Linked DNA regions of Homo sapiens. Changing the gene in region 2 together with the main gene of any one other region gives a genetic interaction. Each region holds a gene or a part of one and is shown on either strand. Other genes may lie near its edges.

Evidence for each region.
Region 1: changes in DCXR (region 2) and PTPRE together harm fitness more than expected from each alone (negative genetic interaction), as found in Homo sapiens cells (one large-scale study listed by BioGRID).
Region 3: changes in DCXR (region 2) and FGFR3 together harm fitness more than expected from each alone (negative genetic interaction), as found in Homo sapiens cells (one large-scale study listed by BioGRID).
Region 4: changes in DCXR (region 2) and TK1 together harm fitness more than expected from each alone (negative genetic interaction), as found in Homo sapiens cells (one large-scale study listed by BioGRID).

What each region holds. Positions count from the first base shown.
Region 1 is NC_000010.11:128,059,686-128,067,842, reverse strand, and holds part of PTPRE (receptor-type tyrosine-protein phosphatase epsilon isoform 1 precursor), read right to left. Parts: intron 7,157-8,157; exon of another isoform or gene 6,999-7,156; intron 6,905-6,998; coding exon 6,828-6,904; intron 6,165-6,827; coding exon 6,128-6,164; intron 5,717-6,127; exon of another isoform or gene 5,418-5,716; intron 4,761-5,417; coding exon 4,663-4,760; intron 1,769-4,662; coding exon 1,649-1,768; intron 1-1,648. UniProt on the Homo sapiens protein: Isoform 1 plays a critical role in signaling transduction pathways and phosphoprotein network topology in red blood cells. May play a role in osteoclast formation and function.
Region 2 is NC_000017.11:82,034,828-82,043,079, forward strand, and holds DCXR (L-xylulose reductase), read right to left. Parts: upstream 2,871-8,252; 5' UTR 2,856-2,870; coding exon 2,804-2,855; intron 2,721-2,803; coding exon 2,623-2,720; intron 2,187-2,622; coding exon 2,032-2,186; intron 1,937-2,031; coding exon 1,894-1,936; intron 1,817-1,893; coding exon 1,717-1,816; intron 1,622-1,716; coding exon 1,557-1,621; intron 1,482-1,556; coding exon 1,364-1,481; intron 1,237-1,363; coding exon 1,133-1,236; 3' UTR 1,031-1,132; downstream 1-1,030. UniProt on the Homo sapiens protein: Catalyzes the NADPH-dependent reduction of several pentoses, tetroses, trioses, alpha-dicarbonyl compounds and L-xylulose. Participates in the uronate cycle of glucose metabolism.
Region 3 is NC_000004.12:1,799,793-1,803,568, reverse strand, and holds part of FGFR3 (fibroblast growth factor receptor 3 isoform 1 precursor), read right to left. Parts: coding exon 3,757-3,776; intron 2,203-3,756; coding exon 2,033-2,202; intron 1,950-2,032; coding exon 1,826-1,949; intron 1,735-1,825; coding exon 1,544-1,734; intron 656-1,543; coding exon of another isoform or gene 505-655; intron 1-504.
Region 4 is NC_000017.11:78,178,581-78,186,737, forward strand, and holds part of TK1 (thymidine kinase, cytosolic), read right to left. Parts: intron 6,586-8,157; coding exon 6,475-6,585; intron 4,103-6,474; coding exon 4,009-4,102; intron 1-4,008. UniProt on the Homo sapiens protein: Cell-cycle-regulated enzyme of importance in nucleotide metabolism. Catalyzes the first enzymatic step in the salvage pathway converting thymidine into thymidine monophosphate.

The DNA.
Region 1 (8,157 bases), on a different chromosome or scaffold from region 2:
TGTGCTCACAGACCCCCGTGCAAGCAGGGCGGCCATGGCCCATCTTGCCTGGACAGTCCCACCTCAGGCCGGTGGTGCTGAGTAATCACCAACAGCACATCCTTCCTTGGGCAAAGCTGTCTTACATTTGGGAGGACAGATGATGCAGTCGGCCTGCTCTTTGGAGTCTCCCAGACCTGCCCTCAGAGCCTCTCTCAGCTTTTGGACCCAGAGCCCATGAGTTTAATTCCCTTGCCCAGATCACGGAAGGTGATACACAGCGTATTTGGAAGTAGATGTGTGTGCATGTGTGTGCACATGTATGCATGTGTATGTGTGCATGTGTGCGCATGTATGTGTGGGTGAATGTGTGTATGTGCGCACGTGTGAATGTGTGCACATGTATGCATGTGTGTGCATGTGTGAATGTGGGTGCGTACACGTGTGCACCCATGTGCGTGTATGTGTGTGTGCACATGTGTGAATGTGTGCATGTGTGCACGTGTGCGTGTGTGAATGTGTGTGGATGTATGTGTGTGCACATGTGTGAATGTGCATGTGTGCATCTGTGCGTGTGTGGGTGCGTGTGTGTGCACATGTATGCATGTGCATGAATGTGTGTGCGTGTGTGCATGTGTGTGCATGTGAATGTGTGTGGGTGTATGTGTGTGCACATGTGTGAATGTGTGCATGTGTGCATGTGAGTGGGGTGTGTGTGCACATGTGTGTGTGAACGTGCATGCATTGTACGGTTGTGTGCGTGTGTGTGCATGTGTGTGCCTGTGTGTGGGTGTACGTGTGCATGTGCATGCATGTGTGTGGGAGTATGTGCATGTGCGTGCCTGTGTGTGGGTAGGTGTACGTGTGTGTGCCTGTGTGTGGGTGTGTGTGCATGTGTATGCCTGTGTGTGGGTGTATGTGCATGTGTGCATGTGTGTGCCTGTGTGTGGGAGTATGTGTGTGCGTGTGCATGTGAGTGCCTGTGTGCGCCTGTGTGCACATTTCTGGGAGAGATGCCAGCAGGGGATAGGATAAGAATAATCAGCTCATCCTTTTCCTTTTTTGCTGTGGCTTCTTGGAACCTCAGACACTTATTTTGTGACCTAATTATGCCAATGACTGTATCTTTAAATCCTGACAAAATGGTCTTCTGTCTTTTCTCTATGGTTTTAAACTTTCTTCTATATCTTGATTTCATCTGCTTTGCATACACATATTTTTACTGATCTCTCTCTTAAACCTTTTGGGGTGGTGGAACTAGCAGAACCCAAGTGTGGAAAATAACGAGGAGGTTTCAGACAGAATTCGGAAAGTGTTAGAAAAAAACCCCACCTCCCAGTCAGTGTGTGAAATGTCACTGTGCTACTGAGGGAGGACCTCACCCCCAGGCCCCTCCAATGACTGGTCTTCCTCCTGGAGAGGCCCAGAGGAGTCACTAGGAATTAGGAGCCCCCAGCACTGCCTGCAGACCCTTGTGCACCGGCCTCTGGTGTCTTGGCCCTCTTGCATGTCTGCCTATCACAGCCTGGCCACTGCACCCTCTCAGCCAGGGCTGCGACAGTGCCGGGCTGGGAGCAAAGCACTTCATAAATGCAGAAGGATGTTAACTCTGGGCATGATGCTCTCTGAAAATGATCTTTCTGGAAGGGCAGCAACTAGAGATGCTTACTGGCTGTATGCAGAACTTCCGGATGGTGTAGTCGACCAAAACCACGCAGTCCTCCACGCACACCCGGATGTTTCCATAGGTCCAGCAGCCTTGGTCGGGCCAGTACTGATGGCACTTTTCCTGCACGGAACAATTTAATAGAAGCAAATAGATCTGTGGGTGCAATGCATCATGACATCCCCCCACCCAACTACAGAAGGCCTCACACACACCAGCTGGAGTCACACAGCTCCCACAGCTGAGAAACAAGTTCACGTGTGTCGACCTCTTGAATGGGGAAACTGAGGCTGCGTAACTGGTGAACAGCAGCCTTGAAACTATGACTAGGATGCCCCAAGGCTTTCTGATGTAGACAGCAACAATGTCTCATTTCTTCATTCATTCACGAATCCCATACATTTTATTAACTGACCATCAACCAGTTATGCTGAGCCTGTAGCCTTCAGAGCTGGGCACCTAACTCCAAGTGACCCTCAGGCTAGAGGGCAAGGACGGTGCTCCCCCCAGACATTTCCCACTGGATTCAGCAATTTGTGTTTTTCCTGCTCAGTTCACTAAGGACAAAGTTAATTTGCACCACTGCCAGTCTGCCATTCAAGAGTGATGAACCTATGATTGGTCTAACGATCTTCATTTTTCTCTAGCAGGGACGAGGCTGCCGTGGAGTCTGCAGAAGAGGGTGCATTGCTACAGACAGGCCCATTTCTTTACCTTCCCGACCTCTGAAGCAAGAATGACCCAAAATACACGTTCCAGGAGCCCTTTCATTTTGCAGCACCGCCCGCAGCACCTGCCCGGTGGTGTCCTCCATCACTTCGCGAGTGAATGAGGACCCACCTCAAGGGGGAAAAGATCTACTTCATCTGCCAGAGAAACATGTCTGGAATGGAACAAGCCTGCCAGTAGTCAGAGAGTATATCCAGGGAATGGCCCCTGAGCAGCACAGCTCGTGGTCAAGCCTCCAGGATTAACAGTCTTATGAAACAAACAGCATCTGGTATTTAGTAGAGAGCAGCATCATTGTGTTATGACGGCTACCGACAACTTCCCCCTCCTTACACCTGGCTCCGGGCGGGGCTGCGGGGCTGTGGGTCACAGGCCATCTCTGATGCAGCCCAGGGGAATTGCAAATGCCTACATGTCCCGGTTTGGGTGAGTCTTGGCCCTATGGGGAGCCCTGGGGTCCCTCCTGAGCTTCTCACCTTGAAGGCTCTCCAGTAGGAACTGAGAACATGTGTCAGCCTCTCAAGGGCTCAGTGTTGGTGGCTGGTTTTATACCCCCTCCCTCTGCCTCCCTCCCACCCGATCATGAGATGCCAGGGCAGCTGTGTTTTGCAATGCAGAGCCCAGGATGTGGAAGCCAAGGAAACCACAACAGAAGTGTGAGCAATTAAGAAAAAGGGAACTCTATTGAGAAATGATTTCATCTGAATTGGTGAGAATGAGGACGCGGCAGCAGCCCAGCACTGAGTCACAGGAGTGGAAAAATCCAGTAGGAGGTTGTGGGGGAAGATGGAGAGAAAATGCCAGTGACACTTTCAGCAGAATGACTGAAAGAGGGAAGTGAGGGCGTCCTTGAGCCCCACTGCTTCTGTGCTGGTCTCATGCTTGGAGCACCAACCCCAGGAAGACTGGTCCCTATGGGCCATGGGTCACGGGGGACCCTGAGGCTCCTGATGAAGGGTCAGCCTCCTTTTCCCTCGCGTGGGTGTCCTCCTCCATGGCCGCTACAGCGCAGGCAGAGTGAAGAGTCCTGGGCTGGGAATCCCCTACTTCCCTCTGTCACTCTTCCCTCTTCCCCATGACAAAGCATGACAAGGGCAAGATTTGCAAGGGCAAAGGGGTGGCCCTCCACAGTCCTGTTTCAGCTCCCCCCAGAGCAGAATGAAAGCCTCCATCCTATTCCTGACCAGAAACGGTGGCTGGAGGCTGCTTCCTGTGTTTTGGGTGGCAATTAGTAAGCTGGCACTGCGGGGACCAGAGCACCTCCCAGCCTGCCCTTCCTGTGGGCTCCTGCCACCCATCTTCTGCCCCAGCTGAGCTCCCCAAGGCCTGGTACTCCCATCTAAAAATGGCAGCCCTTCCCCACAGTCCTCGCTACAATGCCTGGGAACTGCTGGGGCCAGGCCAGCAGATGACTGAGGAGCTCAGGACACAGCAGGCCCTGAGCAGGGCCGGGCAGGACACACGGCTCCCACTGAACCGGGCCTTCATGCCAGAACACGCCAGAAGCACAGCCTCCTAACTTCGCCCCACCTGTGGTAAGTGTCCCTCAGGCTCCCAGTTCTTCTTTCATTCTGGAGAGTGAGCTCACTGCCTATGGCATGGCTCCCTGCCTGTCACTCAACCCCACCCCCGCACCCAGGCTCCCCACAGCCACCACTTCTCAGCCCTGAATTTGAGCCCCTACTCCTTGCACCTGGGACAGAGCTGGCCCAGCACAGCAGATGCTAATGAGTACTTGTTACATTAGGAAACGAATCAGTTCAACTTTTCTTCTTTGTCAATGATTCAAATTCTTATAACGTACATGCATCCTTTTTTGAATTAGAAACAGCTAATTAAATATATTCGGATGACAAATCAACATTTCTTCAATATACCAACGTTTTCCAAAAGCATTTCTCTAGTCTGGATAATAAGCGCGAAATCATGTTCATTTCTAGCCTGAGCTCTGCCGCATGACACGCTCAACATCCTAAAACTCTAAGATTCATGTCTCTCATCAGGCAGGCAGAGCCATGGGGCCAGCCGGGGGCCACTCTTACTTGGGAAAAAAAGGAAACTCTTGTGTCATTGTGTTATCACAGATTAGATAACAGTGAGATGCTGGGGACACAGGGGATTTGTTTCGTGAAGAAAATGCTGTAAGCCACTGCATGTGTTTGGGTTTTTTTCTGCAGTGATAGTGGGAGGAAGGGAGGGAAGTAGGAAAAGGAAGTGGTAAGAACATCCCCAGCCCGGCAGCAGCAGCTGAAAGGAAGTGATACCGGGGCCAGATGCCTGGAACTCACCTCTTTCCTTTCTTTCAAGTTTGTTAACATGACGATGGTCGCAGACTTTTGCTCCCAGACCATTCTCCAGAAGTCGTTAACCGTTTCCTGTTTGGGACCTGTGTGTAGAGGACAATTTCGAAGTCAAAAGGCATGAAGGGAAGTCCCTTTGGGGTCCCAGCCCCGGCACCCTGGCCGTTGGCCCCTGGACAGCTGTTCACTCCCTTCTCAGGCTTGTTGGGGACACACACGTCATGCCCTGAAGCGTTCCGGAACCGGTAGGGGCTGCCTGTCCTGCCACTCACCCACTCCAGCTAGGAACTCCTCAGTGGGCAAGATAATTGGGCCCAGGTTGAGTTATGACGTTCACAGGTAAGAAGCAGGGTTCAGATGAGGGCTGGGTCTACAGCCAAGTGTGGGAGAGCTGGTGAAAGCCTTGCGAGAGGCAGAGACTGGCCAGCCTCACCCTGCATTCCCAATCCCCTCCTCTTTGTCAAAATCTTACTCTCAGCATGGTGCTGTCCAATACGATATGAGCTAAAGTCCCTCGGGAGGGGGATGTGAACAACAGACAAAGTGTCACTAGGAGAAAGTCCTCTGCCCCTATCCACTTCCTGTCTGAGCTGCGGCTATTTTGCAGTCCCGAGCTAAGTGCTACGTGCTGAGGGGGATGGGCGGGGAGATAAGGAAGCCCCTGGCCCTGCTGCTGTCCTGCCGTGGGCTAGCTCCCTGTGGGTGTCTGCTGGCAAGAGAGAAACACATGCTTTCATCTGCTTCAGCCAGGATCGTCAGGTTTCCTGAGGTTTCCAGCTGGGCACATTCCTGATGGCCTCTGCGTGTGCACATGTGTGTCCTTTTTTCTTAGAGATTCTGCATTTGTAACAACTTCCCAGGTGATTTTGATGGACGCTGACTTTCAGAGCTCATTGCCCTAAAGACTCCTGGCCTAAGAGTGAGGAAGTCTGAGGAATCTGGTTTCAGCTCCACTGATATCTAACCGCACGTACACCAGGTCCTGCAGATGACAACCTCTGGTGGAACGGAGTGATGCTGGATTCAGTACTCAACACACAAGGTAGCCCTGTGCAAGGTGAAGGGCACGTTTTCACAGCTGAAGTATATTCTTAGTTATGGCCTTGATCTGAAAAGCTATTCACCCCACTAACCCCTCGCCCAAACTTGGGGAGCCATGTAGGGCTCAGCCAGCTGAGAGAAATTCAAGGTTATCTGACGCAAGTATTAACAAGCTGGAATGGCAGCCGGGGCCATTGCGTGCCCTGTGTTCACACCATATAGGTGTGGGAATAAGTGTGTGTTTCTCTGACTACACATATCCGTTGTGTGAATGGATATCTAACGTGTCTGTTAGGTGTAAACACACACACACAAATCCAGTATAAGTCCTTGGTCTTGTTGGCATACAGAGAAGGAAATAAGAGCTATTCACGTTACCAAAAATACGTTGAGAAATTAATAAAAAGCTTACCTTGAGCTGCTATGAATTTATTCTTCTCTTTGTAACCCTAGAAAAAATAACATCAGATTTATATTTTTTCAGAATTATCTTTGCTGAAAGGATTTGTTGGTGTTGCTGTTAGGAAAGCAGTACATATTCACCATGGAAAATTTGCAAAACACAGGAAAAGGTTAAGAAGGAAAGAAAACTCACCAGCAATTCCAGAAATAACAAATCCTACTTCATACGTCCCCTCTCTAGTCTGTTTTTCTGCCAAACCTTTCCCAGACTCACCCACAAGCAGACATGCAGACATTTCTGTCCTCTAATTGGGTGAACATGTACAATTTATTTTATGTTGTATTTTTAATGGGAATTTTATAATTGATATTAAATGATCTTTTAAAGATTAATACAAATCAAGTTCTAATAGTCCACTGCACATGGTTTTACCACAATCTGTTTAACTACCCATGCTCCCTGTTCTATTTGGTCAGGAATATACATAATGCTGTAGTGAACATCCTCTGTGATCATCTCTGTCTCTTGAATTCAAATTCCCAGATGCTGATGCCAGTGTGTAAAGCACGGGCAGTTCCGTACCCTTTGTGCTTGTGGCCAAACTGCCCAGAAAGGTTGTGACAATTTACACTCCGGGCACCAGACAAGAAAGTGCTTACTGCTCATGCCCCAGCTGGGCCAGGGGAACAAGAAACCTCTGCCCACTTACATCTATGTAGGAAGCATTGATGTAGTCTGAACAGGGAATTCCATCCAGTTGGCTCAGAATCACCCTAGAATGGTCATCTGGAAAAAAAACCCAAACAAAGCCAAGATATTAGGACCAGGAATCACAGTGCTGTCTCTTCCAGAAATCACAGTGCTGTCTCTTCATCTGCAGTGTCAGCTCCTGGGAAGGGCAAAAGCAGCTTCACAGCGACACCAGGGATGGCAGAGATGTTCTTCCTCAGCGTTCCCATGGAGAACACTAGTGTCCTGAGAGAGAATGCACCTGCTTTGGTGAACACTGACTGTCTCAGCTGTGGCATGACGACAAGGGTAGGATTTCAGCATCCAGGATGGGGGCTGCTGGGTCATTACATAGCAAGAATAGCAGAATGTGCCAGGCCCCTGGCAGTGCAAGGGCTGTATTTTATGAACCCTGCACTGGGCCCAGCCCCAGTGTTGCCAAGTGTGGGTGCACTTAAAAGAGCCCCAGGACAGGAGAACTGGGTCCACTCTCCCAGGCTTCCCAGGGAAATGAGCACCAGCCCCATGAGGACAAGTGGATGTGGGGGTCTAGGATTGGGGACTCTGACCCTCAGTCCCACCACCGGAGTCTGCCCCAGAGCTGGAAGGCGAGCACAGTGAGGAGCGTCTGGTAGATCCAGCCTGTTGCACAAGCAGTTTTCCGGGGTAGAAGGCTGACCGTGGAGTGCTCTGTGTGTGGGGTGTGTGTGTAGTGAGTGTGGTGTGTGTGTATTGTGTGTGTGGTGTGTGTGGTTGTGTATGTGTGTAATGTGTGGTGTGTGTGTGGTGTGTATGGTGCATGTGTGTAGTGTGTGTGGTGTATGTGTGGTGTGCATGTGTGTAGTGTGTATGCTGTGTGAATGTGTGCATGTGGGTTTGGTGTGTATGTGTAGTGTGTGTGTGTGTGTGTGTGTAGTGTGTGGTATGTGTGTGGTGTGTATGTGTGTGGTATGTGTGTGATATGTTTGTGTGGAGTGTGTGGTGTGTGTGTGGAGTGTGTATGTGTGTGCGTTATGTGCGGTGGGTGTGTAGTGTGTGTGTTGTGTGTGTGTGTGTGCATGTAGTGTGTGTGTACACACACGTCAGGGCTCCATCATGACTTTTGTGGGTTGTAGTCACTTCTGCCTTTGCAGCTTCCTCCATAGAACTATTAAGAAGGTTATCTTAGGACTGGGTTGGTCGCCAGTGAAAAGATGCACTCCAGAATGGGTTTTGCACGTTTTGTTTGTGATTTGAAGAGAAATGAAGACATTTTCATGGGCTTCTAAAAGTGCTGTGGGCCTGGCCCTGCTCCTCCTGTAACCTTTCCC
Region 2 (8,252 bases):
CGGGATTGGAGGGTGCCATGAGGTCCCGGGATTGGAGTCACTCGGGATTGGAGGGTGCCATGAGGTCCCGGGATTGGAGTCACTCGGGATTGGAAGGTGCCATGAGGTTCCAGGATTGGAGTCACTCGGGGTTGGAGGGAGCCATGGTCCCGGGATTAGAGTCACTCGGGATTGGGGGGTGCCATGAGGGCCACTGTCTGCTTCCGCCTTGTGCTGTGTGGGGGCAGCTCCTACTGGCTCAGGAAAGCCAACTGCTGAATTCTCAACAATTTTGCTAGCCAGTTGTTAATGATCATTAACAAATTATAGAAGCTTACAATTTGTGTTATTAAAAGCAAAATCGGCAAACGTCACTTCCTACTTATTTCTGCATACACGACTGTTTTCTCTGCCCCTCGGTTATGTACATCTGTGGGACCTATGGACACAAACACCACATAACAGGGTGCTGAGGGCATCTCCTCCAGCTCCACGTTAAATGACATCTAACTGGTAGCTTGAAATCAGCCGTGGTGGGAGGAGGCTTGACTTATGGTTACTTGTCTAGACTTCAGATGATAAAATGCAGATTAGACTTCAGGGTGCTGTGTCTATGCTCATTACATTGTGAATAGCACAAGTTGAGGAAACGCTCTTCTAGTTTCCGAAAACCATCATCTGATTCAACAAAGTGGCTCAGATCACCGACGAAGTGGAGAAGCTTGACGTTCTCCTTGTTTCCCTTTTGTCTTACTCATTAGCTTGAAGGAAGAGGAGCCAACTGTACACTCACAGAGGGGGCCATCAACACTCACATGCACACACCGTCTCACCCCAGAGGTTCTGGACAGGCCCGAAGGCCAACCTTGCTGAAATTCACCACCCTCTTTGGGAGGTGACCTTTCACCACCTCCCACCTCCCTGACAGAGAACTGGCCAGGCCTGAAAACCTCAGGAGTGGGAGCCACGCTCCCCCTTGGATTGGAATGTGAATGTCATGGGTCTCTGCCCGCGTTCCACACCTGGCCCCAAGCCCCCAGCTACCTGCTGGCAGCCTAGGAATAGCACATAGTCTGGGCAGCAGAATCAGGTTTATTGGAGGGATTGGGGGTAGGATGAGCACGGCATGGGGCTTGAGGTGTGTGGAGGGAGCTCAGCAGGCCCAGAAGCCCCCTTCCACCGGCAAAGTGGAACCCGTGGTCATGCCACTTCGGTCACTCAGCAGAAAGAGGATGGCGTTCACCACGTGCTCTACCTCTGTGGGCAGGGCGGGGGTCAGGGGCATAGAGGAAGGAGGCTGCCGCCCATCTTTCCCTCCCACCCCTACCCAGGGCACACACAGGGACTGCTGGCACCACGCTGGCTGGGCTCCCACCTGACTCACCAGCAAACTTGCCAAGTGGGATTCGGTTCAGCATAGTCTTGGCCTTGTGGGGGTCACTCCAGGTGGCCTGGCCCATGGACGTCATCACCACTGTGGGGTTTACTGCATTCACTCGGATCTACACCGGGACAGCTGGGGTCAGCAGGGCAAGTGGGGTGTCCTAGGTTGGGGGAGGTACCCCAGCCCTGCTCACCTTGTGGGGCCCGAGCTCTAGGGCCATCACCTTGGTCAGCATGTCCAGGGCACCCTTGGTGGAGCCTACGAAGAGGAACCCAAGCTGGCTGGGGCTGGGGTCGGTGATGAGGGCGAGGCTGGGGCTGGGGTGGGGCTGAGGGCACAGCTGGGGCACTCACAGTAGACGCTATGGTTAGTTACTGCCCGCTGGGAGCACTGGCTGGAGACATTCACGATGGCCCCTGGGACTCCCCGGGCTATTAAGCCCCTGGCCACAATCTGGAATCGCAGCGAGACCGTGAGGCAGAGCTGGCATCACTCACGAGAATTCCCGTCCAGCCCACAGGGCAGCTCACCTGCGACACCTGGATGACCGCACGCAGGTTCACCTCAAAGGATCTAGAGGCCGAGGGACAGACCCTGGTCAGAGATTAGGGCTGCTGCGTCCTCCAGGACAGCCCCTCCCTGAGGTTCCTCCGCCCTCACAGGCTCACCTGTCAAAGGCCTCCTTGGTGACCTCCAGGAAGGGCTGCAGCAGGGCGACAGCGGCGTTGTTCACCAGCAGGTCCACGGGGCCCACGCTGCCCAGCGCCCGCTCGGTGGCCTCCCAGTCACCCAGGTCCACGCACACGGGTTCTATCCCCGGGCACTGTGTGTATCAGGGGGCAGTTACCAGAGGCTCTGTGCCCAGCAAGCGGCACAGCTGGGGACTGGGGCTGGTGACCTTTCAGCCGGACAAGTAAAGGAGTTAGGAGTTCCGAAGGTGTCGGGACTGTGGGGCCAGCAGCCGGGCGCTACCTCCGGCCGGTTCACTTCCTCCCTGCGCCCGAGCGACTCCTGCCCGGGGCCTGCTTCGCAGCCATTTCGGCCTCTTTCTGAGCCCGGGGGCCCCGGCGGCTCTGCCGACCACCCGGCCGCCCACGCAGGCCACCAGCCCCGAGAGAGGGTGCGCGGGCGCCCAGGCCGCGGTGAGAAGCGCAGCGCCCGCGAGGGGAGGCGGAGTCGCGCACAGAGGTACCGCCCCCGCTCGCTGCCGCCCCCTCCTGGCTCGCCGCCTCGCAGCGCTGGGACCCGGCGGGACCTACCTCGCGGACAAGGCTGTCAAGATCCGCCTGAGTCCGGCTCACAGCCACCACCCGCGCGCCCGTCGCGTGCAGCGCCTGGACCGTGCCGCGCCCTATACCTGCCGGGAGCGGGCTCAGTGAAGGCGTCCCCTGCCCGCCTCTGCCCGCCGCCGGCCTTTGCCCACCTTTCCCCGCCGCCCACCTTTGCCTGCCCCGGTGACCAGCACCCGGCGGCCCGCGAGGAACAGCTCCATGTCGGCGCAGTCTCCGCCCTCCGCACTGGGGCTGCGGAACTTGAAGCTCTGGCCACGATGGGCGGGGCGCGGCGGGGCCAATGGCAGGGCGGCCTTCAGATAGGCGGTGGGGACATTCAAATAGCTGCTCCCCGCTGCAGTGATTGGCCGAAAGGAGTGGGCGCGCCGGGGCGGGGCGGGGTCTCCGCTGCCTCAGGGACGGGTCTTTTGAAGTGCCTGGTGTGACCCATCTTCCGTGCTTGAAATCGACGTAGTGGACCCTGGCTAGCATATTTTTCCCTGCCAAGATTATTGCAAAAAGACGATGTGGTGGTTAATATCGGAAAGAATGTGTGGTTAATATCAGGAAGAACACGTGAAATGGAGAATTTCAGGGCTAACATTTCTTGTTTTGTTTCTGAAAACATCGGCATGTCCTAAAAAGTGTCGCCTGTGCCCATCATCTCTCAGGCTTGGGAGCAGGACACCGCCGGCTCACTTTAAAGCCAAGGGAAAGAATTTGGACAACCAACTACGTCTGGAGAAGACACCAATGTCAGCAGAGCTCCGCTTTCATCTGTGGGCGAAGGATTACCTAGATGCCAAGGCAAGAGACTGAAGACACAAACTGTTTCAGTATAACAAAGAAAATAGGCCGGGAGCGGTGGCTCACGCCTGTAATCCCAGCACTTTGGGAGGCCGAGGCGGGTGGATCACGAGGTCAGGAGATCGAGACCATCCTGGCTAACACGGTGAAACCCCATCTCTACTAAAAATACAAAAAATTAGCCGGGCGCGGTGGCGGGCACCTGTAGTCCCAGCTACTCAGGAGGCTGAGGCAGGAGAATGGCGCGAACCCAGGAGGCGGAGCTTGCAGTGAGCCGAGATTGCGCCACTGCACTCCAGCCTGGGCGACAGAGCAAGACTCCATCTTTAAAAAAAAAACAGTTAAAATAAAAATAGTCATAATACAAATTAGATATAAAAATGATCATGATCATGGATAATTATCAATCATTAGTATAAACATTATTAATCATTAGCTTTTAATATTACTCTTTGTTGCATTACTAATATAACCTAGGGACATTGTGAGAAGTGACCTAGAAGGCAAGAGGTGAGCCCTCTGTCACTCCCGCATAAGGGCTGCTTGAGGGCTCCTTGGTCAAGCAGTAATGCCGTTGTCTGGGAAGCCACCCGTTACTTAGAAGACTGCGAAGGGGAGTCTCCTTTCCTTGGAGGCGTCAGGGAACACTCTGCTCCACCAGCTTCTTGTGGGAGGCTGGATGTTATCCAGGCCTGCCCGCAGTCATCCGGAGGCCTAACCCCCTCCCTGTGGTGCTATGATTTAATGGTCACATTTCTTGTCCACTTCCATGTTCCTCCCGTACTCCTGGTTCCTCTTTGAAGTTCGTAGTAGATAGCAGTAGAAGAAATAGTGAAAGTCTTAAAGTCTTTGATCTTTCTTATAAGTACATAGAAGAAAGCGCTGATGTATGGTCTTCTCTTTCTGTTTCAGCTACCTAAAAGGGAAGCGCCCCCTGTCCTATGATCACGTGACTTGCTTCACCTTGTCAATCACTTGGAAGATTCACCCTCCTTACCCTGCCCTCCTTGTCTTGTATGCAATAAATATCAGTGCGCCCAGCCATTCGGGGCCACTACTGGTCTCCGTGTCTTGATGGTAGTGGTCCCCCGGGCCCAGCTGTTCTCTCTTTATCTCTTTGTCTTGTGTCTTTATTTCTCACAATCTCGTGTCTCCGCACACGGGGAGAAGACCTGCTAAGCCCCATAGGGCTGTACCCTACATTCATCTGAAAGGGACTTGAACCCCAGGTCACCTTGGACAGCCAGCATCCGGCCAGGGGCACCTTTTAGAAGTTGAATAGGATAGGAAGGGATTGGGGTCATGGAAGTACATGGTGGTCCAGCAAAGACCAGCATTGCTTCCCGAGGCTTTGGGGTCAGTTACAGATGCGTGTGTGTGTGCACCCACACACTGGGCCTCCATGTAAAAGCTACTTTGTTCTGTGGGTCATGGTAGGAAAGTCTAGAACTACTGCCCTTCTGTGGCCAGGAGTGACCTTCTGTGGCCAGGAGTATGGAATTGGTGACTGTAGGGCCTTTGGATCATCTGGGGCTTTGGGCCCACAGAGGTGGACAGGCCGGAGGCAAGGGTGGCCAGGCACAGCAGGAGGCAAGGTCCTGGTTTGTTCTGGAGGACAGCCAAGTGCATGGTCCATATCAGACCTGGCACTGCGGCCAGTCCAACCCCCCCTTGGCCGCCCTGTAAACTCTGCTTTCTGCCCCTACCCTTGGAGCCTGCTTTCTGCCTGCCAGCAGCCAAGGGAAGGACACCCCTCAACCTGTCCTTCCTGGAAGGCCCATCTGCTTAGACCCCTCCAGCGGCCTGCACGTGCCCCCAGGAGAGTGGACCAGGCCTCACTGGTCCTGTTATCCGTGGCTCAAGCCCTGCTCCCTGTGAGTCCTGCTGGCTGGTCAGAAGCACCCTCGGCATCCCCTACCCCCACCCTGTGCCCTGTGCCCTCCCAACCACTGCCTGGAGGGCCCGATCCTGGCCCCTAGCCCTCTGCCCTCTTGCCCAGCTTTGGAAGATTCCCAAGGTCTGGGTAAAGTTACCAGTATCCAGATTCCTTCTCGAGCTCGAACCAACATTACACTTTTCCTAGAGTCAAAACGGGAGTTAACACAAGTATATAAATGACAATTAATACATTGGATAGTTTGATTGTTCGTCCAAATTTTGATATTCCCCACTAACAGCATATAACGAAGCTTAACACAACTCTATAGGAATAGTCACATTGGAGGTGAACAAAGCAGAATGTCTGAATCTACACTGATACTGAGGGAGAGGAGCAGTGGTGGCCACACCCGATGTTATCCGCTGTCAAAAAGCAATTTGAAGGGCCGGGCGCGGTAGCTCACCCCTGTAATCCCAGCACTTTGGGAGGCTGAGGCGGGTGGATCACGAGGTCAGGAGATCGAGACCATCCTGACTAACACGGTGAAACCCCGTCTCTACTAAAGGTACAAAAAATTAGCCGGGCGTGGTGGCGGGCGCCTGTAGTCCCAGCTACTCGGGAGGCTGGGGCAGGAGAATGGCGTGAACCCGGGAGGCGGAGCTTGCAGTGAGCCGAGATCGCACCACTGCACTCCAGCCTGGGCGACAGAGCGAGACTCCGTCTCAAAAAAAAAAAAAAAAAAAAAAGCAATTTGAGGTGCCCGGGGATGCTGAAGAGGTAGAGTGGCATACCTGGGTTGAGAAAAATTATCGTAATGCCAATTGGAGTCCCATAAAAGAGGACTGGCATCAAAAAGAGGAAAAGGGTTCAAAGGAGATTTATCATGGGGTTCAGAATCACGGACGCGAGGGGCGGTAGCAGGGACAACAGACAGAAAAGTTTCCCCTTCCCATACTCGCAGTCTGGATGTGGCAAGAGCCAATTTTCAAAGTTCTGGGTGTTCTGAGCTCAGAATGGGGAGTATCACACGAGCCCTCGGGGGACAATGTCCTTATTTTCCCATTTTAAGGGAAAGAAAGAGCTGAACCTCCTATACAAAGTAAAATGATGATCCTCGTTCTTCCAATAAGAAATAAAACAAGTAGCCTCCAGGCATTCCCTCCCGCCACAGGAGCAATTGTTTTTTAAATAGCCCTTTGGTACCCAGTCTATTACTAAACCATATGAGTCAGTTTTGGTTTTTTTTTTTGAGTCGAACAAGCATTTCTGTGAACCGGACCGATGAACGTTTCTACACAACTACCAAAGGGAAGCGGGTCCCCACATGCACTCAGGAAAAAGAAAAGCCACGTTGGCGCGCCAGATATCGGGGGAACCAGCCCCCAGTATTTCAATGTAGGTTCTTTCTATTTTCCATAAGTGTTGGCTGGCTGAGAAATGAAGAGAAAGAGTACAAAGAGAGGACTTTTACAGCTGGGCCTCCCAGGGCGACATCACATATCGGTGGGACCCTGATGCCCGCCTGAGCCGCAAAACCAGCAGGTTTTTATTAAGGATTTTGAAAGGGGAGGGGGTGCAAGAACAGGGAGTAGGTCACAGAGATCACATGCTTCAAAGGGCAAAAAGGAGAACAAAGGCACTTCAGGAGGCCAAGGCCAGTGGATCACCTGAGGTGAGGAGTTTGAGACCAGCCTGGCCAGCGTGGTGAAACTCCGTCTCTACTAAAAATACAAAAATCAGCTGGATGTGGTGGCACGTGCCTGTAATCCCAGCTACTCAGGCAGCTGAGTCAAGAGAATGATTTGAACCTGGGAGGCGGAGGTTGCAGTGAGCCAAGATCGCACCATTGCACTCCAGCCTGGGTGACCAGAGTGAAACTCCGTCTCAAAAAAAAATAAAAAATAAAAAGTTTTAAAAAAATTTTTTTAAAATAAGGCTGGGCGCGGTGGCTCATGCCTGTAATCCCAGCACTTTGGGAGGCCGAGGCGGGCGGATCACGAGGTCAGGAGATCGAGACCATCCTGACTAACACAGTGAAACCCCGTCTCTACTAAAAATACAAAAAATTAGCTGGGCCTGTTGGTGGGTGCCTGTAGTCCCAGCTACTTGGGAGGCTGAGGCAGGAGAATGGCGTGAACCTGGGAGGCGGAGCTTGGAGCGAGCCGAGATCCCGCCACTGCCCTCCAGCCTGGGTGATAGAGCGAGACGCCATCTCAAAAAAAAAAAAAAAAAAAAAAGACTGAGCCCTCAGAGACACAGCTGCAGTGAAACCATTAAATGGAGGCCAGTAGCATGTGAACCACACAGGCAGGGCCAGAGGGAGCACAGGGGGCTTCCTGGAGAGGTGGGAGGAAGGCATGACTGAGAGAGAGCACGGGGGACCCTGGGAGGGAGAGGCCACCTGTTCCTGGCCTCATGTCTGTGTGCACACACGCAGAGGCACATGCCAATGTGAGCACAAGCACTTGGGCATACACACAGGGACACACACAGGCACACATGGGCATAGACACACATGAGCATTCACACGGGGACACAGGCATACACGGGTGTAGGCACACATGAGCATGCACATGGGGACACACACAGACACACACGGGTGTAGACACATCAGCATGCACATGGGGACACAGGCACACACAGATGTAGACACACACATCAGCATGCACACGGGGACACAGGCACACACAGGTGTAGACACACATGAGCATGCACACGGGGACATGTGTGTGCACCCGGGGACACATGCATGCCATGGCACAGCAGCCACACAGGACACACACACACACACGCACACACGGGCATGCACACGTGAGCACACATGGCAATGCATGGACCAGGCAGCCACACAAGTGCACACATGGAGCATATGTGAACATGCAGGCCTGAGCATGGGGGTGCATGCACTGCAGCTGACAGGCCCACAGACATG
Region 3 (3,776 bases), on a different chromosome or scaffold from region 2:
CGCCAACTTGGTCACCGCCACGCGGCTGAGGGCCCTCCGCCTGGTACACCGGTACTGAGCCCGAAGCCAGGCCCCTCCACCGGCGAGTCCTCTGTCCCAGGTGAGCGGCAGGCGGGCAGGCAGCATGCGGGTTAGCGCAGAGCCGGGCGGGTGCAGGTGGAGGATGGACACAGGGACACACAGGCTGCGGAAGCGAGCAGGCAGCGGGCAGGGGTGGAGAGAGGCGCAAAGGGGTGCTCACAGACGGCACGGAGCCGGCCCGGTGGGCACCGGGCACCTCCTGTGGGGGTCGCAGGCGTGCGGGAAGGGTCGGCGCAGGCCACAGGGCTCGAAGCGGGCGGTCACCGTGGAGGCTGGAGCTGCCAGCCTTGCCGAGGCGGCCCCGAGTGGAGCGCGAGCCGGGGCGGGAGCGAGCAGGGCTGGGCGTGCGGGGCGTGCAGGGCGCGCGGCCAGGGCCTTGGAGCTGGAGCTCTTGTGCCGGCCGGCATGGGACAGAGTCGTTACCTGCTCGGGGCCCGTGAACGCTCAGCCAAAAGGCCTTCTCGGCCACGCCTATGAAATTGGTGGCTCGACAGAGGTACTCGCCCCCGTCCCGCTCCGACACATTGGCCAGGCGGAGGCGCACGTCGGCCTCCACACTCTCACTGATCCAGGACTGCGGGGACAAGAGACCCGGCTCAGGCACGCCCCCGAGGCAGCCCCGCCGGGCACGAGGCAGGATGTGGGAGACCCCCAAGGTACAGATCGAGGCTGGGCTGCGTCAGCCCCAAAGGCTGCCTGGAGGAGGCGTGGAGGCACTTCACGGTGGCTGTGGTTTCACAGGATGCACGTCTCTGCCTCCACCCCAACAACCCAGCCCAGACCCTCAGACAACCTCTGGTCACTGGCCTGCCCTCCCCCGGGCTCTTGCAGAACCTGCACCCTGGACAGGGCCCGAGGCGGCCTCTCTGGGCGGGGTCTGGACTCCACCCTCGCCCTGCGCCTGCTCCCCGCCCCCAAGAGACCGTCTTCTCTCTGAACAGATGTTTCTCTTTGGGCTTTGAGTGTCGCAACCGTCCCAATTCAGTGGCCCCCACCCGGCAGCCATGGGAACAAAGCTAAGGGCTTCAGGAGGCGGGCAGACAGTGAGCTCGGGCCCCACTGCACACAGCTGACGAGAGCCAATCGGCCAGGTCGGGGCTCAGCCACCGCCTCTGAGGCCCAGAGGGGGCCTGGAGGGCTTGGCCACACTGCCCTCCTGTCCTGGGGCACCACTGCTGCCCAAGCCGCACCCACCCCCAAGAAGCCCGTGGGCAGCTCCATGTCAGGGACTTCAGTGGCTGAGGCTGGCCCTCTGCAGACACGGAAACGGGTCCCAACGCAGCTGCCTATGGCCCTGAGGTGTGGGGTGGCTGAGACTTGGCCCCACAAGCACCCCCACAGCTTCTGCCCCCGAAGCTCCAACCCCTAGACCCAAATCCTCACGCAACCCGCAGCCAAGGGGCACCCTTGGGGCCAGCCCAGGAGCCCCAGCGGCGGCACCCACGTGCACACGGTGGCCCACCTTGAGCACGGTAACGTAGGGTGTGCCGTCCGGGCCCACCTTGCTGCCATTCACCTCCACGTGCTTGAGCCACTGGATGTGGGGCTGTGCGTCACTGTACACCTTGCAGTGGAACTCCACGTCGCTGCCCAGCACCGCCGTCTGGTTGGCCGGCAGCCCCGCCTGCAGGATGGGCCGGTGCGGGGAGCGCTCTGTGGGGGCAGATGACGCTCAGGGGCCACCCCCTCCCTCACCACCACCGCCACTGCCGCCCCCACCCCCGCGCCGCCCCAGGGCCCTCACCCAGCACGTCCAGCGTGTACGTCTGCCGGATGCTGCCAAACTTGTTCTCCACGACGCAGGTGTAGTTGCCGCGGTCCGAGGGCACCACGCTTTCCATGACCAGGCTCCACTGCTGATGCCGCAGCTGCACCGGGACGCGGGCGGGTGAGTGAGCGGAGGCAGCAACCACCGCGCCTGCCAGGCCCAGAGCCACCCCGCCGCGCCCACCTTGATGCCTCCAATGCGGTGCTCGCCGCGGAACTCCCTGCCGTTCTTCAGCCAGGAGATGGAGGGAGTGGGGTTGCCAGCGGCTGGGCAGCGGAAGCGGACGGTGTTGGCGGCCGGCACGGCCAGCAGCTTCTTGTCCATCCGCTCGGGCCGTGTCCAGTAAGGGGCCCCTGCGGGCCGAGGTGCGTGTGAAGGCCATGACCCGAGTGGGAGCAGAGGCCCCTCTGAACAACCCCCTTCCCAGAGCTGCCCCTGCCCATCCCCAGCCTCAGTTTCCCGTCCTGTGTAGGAAGAGGGCGGGATGAGGTTCCCAGGAGCCTCCACATCTTGTCCCCTCCCCGGGGCTTTCTCAGAGCTGGGCCGTGTGTCCCCTCCCCTCCCCTCCAGGGTGCTCTGCCCGGACCTGTGAAGTCACAGGGCACAGGGCATTGTCCAGGGGAGCCCACCTGCCCAGAGAGGCGTGCCAGGGCCAGGCCCACCAACGGGGAGACTGAAGACCCAGGGGGCAGGCCCATCTAGTGGACAAGCCAGGACCTGGGAGCAGTTTACCAGGAGAGGAGCCCAGTCGCCTGCAGAGCCAGGAGCCTTGGAGGCAGCTGGGCAGCATGGGCCCACGGAAATCAAGACCCTACACCACCCTCTGCAGAGCTCCAAGTCTGGCGGGCACCCAGAGACGGTGGCACCCTGGAGGCCCTGCCTCCTCCCATCTCGATGTCCAGGGCTCCCACCACCCCTCTCACAGCCCAACTGGTTTTTCTCCTTCCTCAGGGCTGGTGCTGCCTTCCTGCCGGGACTCCAGGCAAGGATGGGCTGGCATTCCCCAGGAGGGAAGCAGCCCTCCCCTCAGTGAGCTCACTGCCAGCCCCCTCCAGGCACACGCCCATCAGGGGCACTGAGGCCCAGCAAGCAGCAGTGTGGACACAGGCTGGAAAGAGGCACCCCACGGTGCTGAGCTCCCTCCCAGGCCTCCTGGAGACCCCCAGGGTGAGTTCCCCCAGCTGTTTCTCTCATGGACTCAGCCTCCCTTCCTCACCTGCTTACCCCACTGGCCCAGGGACCCAGCGCACACACCATCAGTCCGCAAGTCGTAACTGCCCCCCATGTCTGTGCCACGATGACCCTCACCTGCACGCACTCCCCTCAGAGCTCCCTCCAAAACCAGAAGCCCCACCTCCCCACCCTACAACTTGGCAAAGTCCACCTGCCACCGTTCCAGGCCGGGACGCCAGGCATCGTCCCCGACTGCTCTCTCACAGCCGCAGCCCACCCACCAGCCACCCTCCTGCCAGCCACCCTGCCCGCCACTGGTTGTGGCAGGTGCCCCGGCGCCCTCACCCCGGGTCCATCCACCCCACGGCAGCCACCTGAGTGCCCTGCCCTGCTGCGCTAATGTCTGCGGGGTCCACCTCACCTATAGCCAACACCAGAGCCCCACAGGCCAGCCCTGGCCTCCTCCTGCTCCTGGAACCCCCAGGGCCCTGTGCCTCAGTCTCCCCATCAGCAACACGGTGTCCCCTTGCACCCCAGCCCTGCCACCAGGGTGGGGCATCTAGAGCCATGTCAGTGACCCAGCCCCTCCTGTATCCTGAGGGGACCAGACCTTCGGGGTGACCCCAGGGAGGTTGTTCCGGGGCCTTAGTCCCTCAGCTGCCTGTGAAGGGCAGGGCTTGGCGGTGGCAGCGGGCCCCACCCCGGCTGGCCTGAACCCTGGACCCTGCTCCTACCTGTGTCCACACCTGTGTCC
Region 4 (8,157 bases), 3.9 Mb from region 2:
TGCTAGGAACCCCTCTCCTCGATCTAGAACTGCTTGCAATGGGAAGACCCTGAACTTCTTTTGTTTTGTTTTGTTTTGAGACTGAGTTTTGCTCTTGTTGTTGCCCAGGCTTGGAGTGCAATGGGGCGATCTTGGCTCACTGCAACCTTCGCCTACCGGGTTCAAGCGATTCTCCTGCCTCAGCCTCCCAAGTAGCTGGGATTACAGGCATGCGCCACCACGCCTGGCTAATTTTTGTATTTTTAGTAGAGACGGAGTTTCTCCATGTTGGTCAGGCTGGTGACCCGGAACTTCTTGAAGAGAACAAGGGCACACAGAGGCCAGGGCAGAATGCTGATGTCTGGGTAGGGTGTAATAAATACTCACTGAATGAACTCAAGTTTTACTTGCTGGCCAGGGAGGAAGTAGACCGAGAAATCCCTCCTATAGGCTGAACAGGGGACAGGACTTCATACGCTGGCTCCTGACTCAGGGCATTTGGATGTCGAGGAAGGAGAAGGGAAAGGTTTCTGCCTCGGGGGTCTGGGTCAGCCTCTGTCAACAAGGTTTACGCAGAGCCAGGAGAACAGAGCTATTGAACAACTCACAGCGGCAGGTCTGAAGGAGGGAGAGCCTTGCCAAAGCTGAAGCTTCCTTGTTCTGAGAGGGCCATGTCCCCAAAGCTGATGCAAAATCCCTGGATGCATTCTGAGGCCACAGTTTGGGAGCAAAAGAGAACAGCTGCAGCCCTATTCCCAGCCTGGGCTCACTTTCTCGCCAGGAGTCCCTCAAGCACGGGGCAGCAACAACGACGTCTCCACGTACGCAGAGGCATGGGGGTGCTCAGGGGCGCACCTCTGAAGGTCAGAAACGGAATGGCCATACCCAAGCGGGGAGGAGATGCCAGCTGCCGGGTGGTCGGGAACCCAGAGCGGACACTGGCAGCCTCAACTCCACAGGGCAGATGCCCCGCACAGGGGAAGGGACCCGTCAGCCTCCCCACGGGAATGGAATTTGCAGCTGTGACTCATACAGAATGTTGGGCAAGAACAGAACCAGGAAGGCAGGACTGGCCTTTTGAGGGGACAGGCCCTGTGACGTCCGGGCAGGGTATTCAGGCCAGAGCGGCCTGGCTCTGTGCTGGGAGGCAGGGCGGGTAGAGACCTCGAAGCACTCACCAAACCAACTCATTTATTCTTCCTCCAGGGTATAGAACTAGACTAAGTGTGGCCAGGCGTGGTGGCTCACGCCTGTAATCCCAGCACTTTGGGAGGCTGAGGCAGGCAGATCACCTGAGGTTAGGAGTTCCAGACCAGCCCGGTCAACATGATGAAACCCCGTCTCTACTAAAAATACAAAAGGTTAGCTGGGCATGGTGGCAGAAGCCTGTAATCCCAGCTACTCAGGAGGCTGAGGCGGGAGAATCACTTGAACCTGGGAGATGGAGGTTATAGTGAGCCGAGACTGCGCCACTGCACTCCAGCCTGGGCCACAGAGCAAGACTGTTTTTAAAAACAAACAAAAAACGAACTGGACTAAGTATACTAAACGTATAGGTGGCCCTGTGCCCAGGTTCTAGTCTTTGAAAGATCAGCAGAAGTGACGTTTGCAGCTTCTGGTCAGGCCCATGAAAACCTCACACCCAGGGGCTCCGCCACGTCTCTTCCCCTCCGTGTCTGTATACAGCCAGCCAGGGCGACCTAAGCCGCCTCGTGGGCGGCCTCCCCATCAACCGGCCTGGAACCACGTAGGGGGTCTGTGAGCGAGAAATAAATTCCTGTTATGTTTATATCAAACCACCACATTGTGTACTTCGAGGCAACCCTAAAAGTACCTAAGAGGTCAAGTCTGCTAAACCCCTTGGAGAGAGTTTCAGTTTCATTCTTTGTGATAAACTAACAAAAATAAAATCTCCAAAGCAGAGGAAAGAAAACTAAGATAACAGAAAATAACCCAGAAACTCAACCACAGAATATGTTCCTGAGGAAATAGAAAAATCTGGAAAAGTCTAAGAAAAGATTTTCAGGAACATAATGGAAGGAACAGCATAAATTTAAAAATAACCCAACAGTAACTTGTCAAACAAAACGGAGCATGATGAATTAGAGCAGCAGATGTAAAAATAGTCACTGAAACAAAACACACTCTGGAAGATGGAACCCAGAACACCTCAGAGATGGATGAGGAGAGAAATACCTGAAGTGATAATGGCTTCATTCCTTCCCCAGAAATGAAAAGGCACACCAGCTATAAAGCAGGATAAATGAAACAAAGCTTCCCCTACACACATTGTGCTGAGAGAGAACAGATAGAATACCTGACCAGAGGTAACATTAGAGAGATGGCGGCCTTCCTCTGAGCAAAAACACAATGACCAGCGCTGCTACTTTTCAAAGCAACAAGATCAAGACCAGGCGTGGTGGCTCACGCCTGTAATCCCAGCACTTTGGGAGCTGAGGCATGCGGATCACCTGAGGTCAGGAGTTCCAGACCAGCTGGCCAACATGGTGAAACCCCATCTCTATTAAAAATACATAAATGAGCTACGCATGGTGGCACGCACCTGTGATCCCAGCTACCCGGAAGGATGAGGCAGAACTGCTTGAACCCAAAAGGCGGAGGTTGCTGTGAGCTAAGATCACGTCACTCCACTCCAGCCAGGGCAACAGAGCAAGACTCCATCTCAAAAAAAATAAAAATTAAAAAGGCCGGGCACGGCGGCTCATGCCTGTAATTCCAACACTTTGGGAAGCCAAGGCGGGTGGATCACCTGAGGTCAGGAGTTCAAGACCAGCCTAGCCAACATGGTGAACCCTTGTCTCTACAAAAATTAGCCAGGCATGATGGTGGGTGCCTGTAATCCCACCTACTTGGGAGGCGAGGTGGGAAAATCGCTTGAATCCGGGTGGCAGAGGTTGCAGTGAGCCGAGATCACGCCATTGCACTCCAGCCTGGGCGACAGAGTAAGACTCCGTCTCAAAAAAAAAAAAAAAACCCAAACCCACACAAGATCAACCTACCTCTTGCTGCCCAGCTTAAACTAGATGACAAAAGAAAGATTTCCATACAAAGACTGGCAGCTTCCCATCTATACCTCCTGGCTGCAAAAACTACTAAAAAAGGTACTTCAACAACAAGAAAATAAACGTATAAGAAACAAGCAAAAGGAACCATGAGGCAAACCAAACATTACTCCCCACCTCCCCCTTTTTTTTTTGAGACAGGGTCTGGCCTTGTCGCCCGGGCTGGAGTGCAGTGGTGCTATCACCACTCACTGCAGCCTCGACCTCCCAGGCTCCATCCTTCTGCCTCAGCCTCCTGAGTAGCAGGGACCACAGGTGTGCGCTGCTATGACTGGCTAATTTCTTTTTTTTTTTGGTAGAGATGGGGTTTTACTATGTTGCCCAGGTGAGTCTCCAACTCCTGGGCTCAAGTGATCTGTCCACCTTGGCCTCCCACAGGCTGAGATTACAGGTGTGAGTCACTGCATCTTGCCAGTAAATAGATATATGTATTTTTAAAAAGGTACAATGGCCAGGTGTGGTAGCTCATGCCTGTAATCCCAGCGCTTTGGGAGTTCAAGGCGGGGCGGATCACCTGAGGTTGGGAGTTTGAGACCAGCTTGACCAACATGGAGAAACCCCATCTCTACTAAAAATATAAAATTAGCTGGGCGTGGTGGCGCATGCCTGTAATCCCAGCTACTCGGGAGGCTGAGACAGGAGAGAATTGCTTGAACCCAGGAAGCAAAGTTTGCGGTGAGATTGTGCCATCGTACTCCGGCCTGGGCAACAAGAGCAAAACTCCGTCTCAAAAAAAAAAAAAAAAAAGTAAAACGAATCCTACAAGACTATGACACTATGACAGGGAAACTAGAAAGGGGCCTTCAGAGGGTATTCCAACACTAGTTGTAGCTATTTAACCTTGTTATTTTACTAAAAGATCAGATAACTTCCAAGTCAGCGAGGGAAAACGGGAGGACAGAGCGGAAGCTGGCAGGAAGAGTGATGCCAAGACAAGCCAACTTACAAACTGCCCCTCGTCGATGCCTATGACAGCCACGCCCAGGGCCTCCTGGGCCACGTCTCGGAGCAGGCAGGCGGGCAGTGCCTCCATGGTGTTCCTGGGAAGAGAAAGCCAGAGCGTGAGCAGGGCCAGGGAGGCCAGAAGCCACAATGCAGGGGCCAGGGAATGGCACTGTCGTGACCACCTGCTACCTGCAAAGCAGGCTCAGTGTTCACCCAGCCGGGCTTTGAGAAGTTAGCACCTATGGGAAAGGCCCTCGTCCAGAAAACCAGTTATTTATTTATTTTTTATGAAACAGAGTCTTGCTCTGTCACCCAGGCTGGAGTGCAGTGGCGCCATCTCGGCTCCCTGCAATCTCTACCTCCCAATTCTCAAGGGTCTCAAGCGATTCTCCCACCTCAGCCACAAGAGTAGCTGGGACTACTGGCACACACCATCACACCCAGCTAATTTTTGTATTTTTAGCAGACATGGGGTTTCACCATGTTGGCCAGGCTGGTCTCAGACTCCTAACTTTTAAGTGATCCACCCGCCTTAGCCTCCCAGAGGAAAACCAGTTATTTATACAAGCCACTTCACTTGATGCTTTGGATTAGAAATTAGTAATGTCCAGTACAAAGCTCAATGAGACTAAAAACTCTTCCACTGTTCAGGAGCTGGGGGCAGACTAGGCCAACTTCATCAGGTACCAGGGCCCATGATACCATTAGGGGCCAGCCAAATGTTTCCTTTTAAAATTCAGAAGAATGAATAACTAGAACTGGGCCTGGGTTATATTTGTCTTTATATTAATTATGTTGCAAAACATAAATTTTTAAAATCCTGTATTCTGGCCAGACACAGCAGCTCATGCCCGTAATCTTTGGGGAGGCCAAGACGGGAGGATCACTTGAACTCAGGAGTTCGAGACCAGCCTGGGTAACACAGCGAGACACTGTGTGAAAAAAATGTAAAAATTAACTGGGTGTGGTGGTGTGCGCCTGTAGTCCCACCTGCTCAGGGGGCTGAGGTGGGACGATCACTTGAGCCCAAGGGTTTGGGGTCACGTAACAGTAAGCTATGATTGAGCCACTGCACTCCAGCCTGGGTGACAGAGAGAGACCCTGTCCCAAAAACAAACAACAAACAAACAAAAAAACATACTTTACAACTATTGTTTCGTTATTACCTTGCTATAATCCTACTTCGAGTTCTGGAAAGAATGTGTGAAACAGTATTTTGGGCATTTTAAATTCCCTCTTCCCTCCCTAAACAGAGAAAGACAAAGTGAGGGCAGGTGGGAGGCCAGCTGTGGCCCCTGCAAGGGCAGCCTCTCGAGCCATCAATGCTGCTGGCCCAGCCTTGGCCTCTGTGGCCCGTGTTAGAGATGACTTGTGACACACGGGCAGAACTCATATTTAATCCCGGATCTGACTGACTCCAGAAGTTGTACTTCCAACAGCTGGAACGAAGTGACCTCCTCTGCTTTCCCTGTCCCCACCAGGTGTAACACCACCCTGTGCCGTGGACATCGCATCTTAGGAATGAGGAAGCAAATTTGGAAAAGTAAATGACCTACATCAGACAGCATGGTCACGAAGTGCGGTTAAATTCCCACATGCAACTCCAAGCCCCAAGCACCCTCCACTCCACCAGCATCTGGCTTCAGGAGCCCCTCAGCTCCCACCGAAGGCCACACGCCGGGTGGATCTGTTCTCTGCACAGCCATAGCAACTCTCGGATACAGCTCCCAGCCAGGGCTCTGAGGCTGAAGCCCTATAATGTGTGGCACAGCATGGCTTTGCCACTGGGTGCCCAGGTGGACAAGTCCAGAGGACCAAGCAAAGCGTCTCAGGCTCAGAAACATCAGGCCCACATCTGCTGCCAAGGAAGTGAATTTAACTCCCAAACTGAGGTTGCAGGCGGAAATGTCCAGCGAGCTCAAACAGCTACACATAAAACAGGGAAGCGTGAAGGCTGCCAGGTGACGGGGGAGCCAGCCAACAACGGACAACTAAAAAATTAAACAAAAATCAACGTGCAGGCCAAACCAAACCAGTCTGCAGCCTGTGTGAAGCTGAAACCCTACGGCAGAGTTTCTGAACACTGGCAGGCTCCTGACATTTGGGGCCAGCTCGTTCTTGCATGGGGGCCGTCCTCTGCACCATAGGACCCTTAGCAGCAGTGTCCCTGATTTCTACACATTAAAGCCCAAAAGCATCCCCTCCCCCCTCCAGTTGCAACAACTAGAAATGTCTTCAAACATTGTCAAATGGACCCTGGCGGCAAAATCACCCTCAGTGGAGAACCACTGGCTCCAGCCCAGGGAGTGGAGAGTGTGCGCTACCTTGCCAAGCACCTTGGAAAGTGTGCTGATTTGAATCATTCAATGTTCAAATGATTAACCATCCCCATTAAAGAGAGTCCTAACAGTGTGTCCTGTGCCTTGTGATTTTCCACTGGACAGGACTGCAGGGGGCAGGGACTGACCGGTCATGTGTGCAGAAGCTGCTGCTGTAGCGAGTGTCTTTGGCATACTTGATCACCAGGCACTTGTACTGAGCAATCTGGAAGCGACGGACGCGTCTCATCAACTCTGTGCTGCAAGAGGAGAGAGGGTCAGGTGAGGTCCACGGCGGGAGGAGTGGGAGAAGGAGACCCCTCCCCAACAAGCCTGGCTCCTCATTGTCCCTAGTGGTATGCAGACTGAGCCCACCACAGCCAGAAAAGAGCAGGGCAGAGCAGGCAGGGTATAATATCCCTACAAAGAGGGTTGGAAGTCAGAATTCTCTATGGGGAAGAGGTCCAGGAATGGTACTCAGGTGGTCCCAGGAAGTGTGGGAGGAGTAACCTTCTCCAAGATGTAGTGGGGAAGGCAGAAGCAAAGGCTACATGTAGAGGGAACCTGCGACTGCATTCCAAAGTAACCTCATCCCAGAGTTGTTCCCAGAGTTCAGAGTTTTTCTTTCTTTCTTTTTGGGGTGGAGTCTCGCTCTGTTGCCTAGGTTAGAGTGCAGTGGAGCGATCTCAGCTCACTGCAACCCCTGCCTTCCGGGTTCAAGAGATTCTCCTGCCTCAACCTCCCGAGTAGCTGGGATTACAGGAGGCTGCCACCATGCCCAGATAATTTTTGGTTTTTTTTTTCAGTAGAGATGGGGTTTTACCACGTTGACCAGGGTGGTCTCAAACTCCTAACCTCAAGTGATCAACGCACCTCAGCCTTCCAAAGCGCTGGGATTAAAGGCGTGGGCCACCACACCTGGCATACAGCTTTTCTAAATTAATTTCAGAAAGTCTTTGTGTGCAGCGTCAAAAGCACTTGCTTCTGGGTCCAAGAAGTCCAACTCTGAGCCACATCTTCCTGAGCAAGGGGTTTGAGCTGAAGTGATCCCCAGGGCCATAAAAGAATGTTGGGGCAGGGCATGGTGGCTAACATCTGTAATCCCAGCACTTTGGGATGCTGAAGTAGGAGGATTGCTTGAGACCAGGAGTTCAAGACCAGCTTGGGCAACATAGCAAGACCCCAGCTCTATAAAAATAAAATAAAATTAGCTGGGTGGAGGCGGGGGGGTGCACGCCTGTAGTCCCAGCTACTTGGGAGGCTGAGGTGAGAGAATTGCTTGAGCCCAGGAGTTTGAGACCAGCCTGGGCAACATAGCAAGATCCTACCTCTAGAAGAACAAAAACAAAACAAAAAGAATGGTGCGTGGGTAGTTTACTCAAGAAACTCACTAGCCCCACCCGGGTCAGGGAATGGTTCTATCACCTCAGGAGAGCAGAGGCTCCACGGCTTCAGACTCCTTGGTTTAGAAAGCGACTACGTTTCCTTGGCCTTAGAAGGAAACAGCCACATTGAATAGGGGTGTACAAAAAGGCCTGGCCTACAGGGGACACAACTGGTTGCCACCTTCTCAGAGGACTTGGTGGGGAAGACAGCTAAGCTGTAAGCAGCTGTCACCAGCTCCAGGAGGGAGTGGCGTCCACACAGGACGAGGGGCTTGGCCTGGGCAGAAGAGGGCAGAGACTTCCTCCTGGACTGAATTCAAGGGAGGAGCACCCCAGGCGGGAGCTGTAGGAGGCTGTGCTGGTCCTTCTAGGGGAAGGGAAGGGGAGGGAAGGGAAGGGGAGGGGAGGGGAGGGGAGGGAAGGGGAGGGGAGGGACGGGACAAGGGG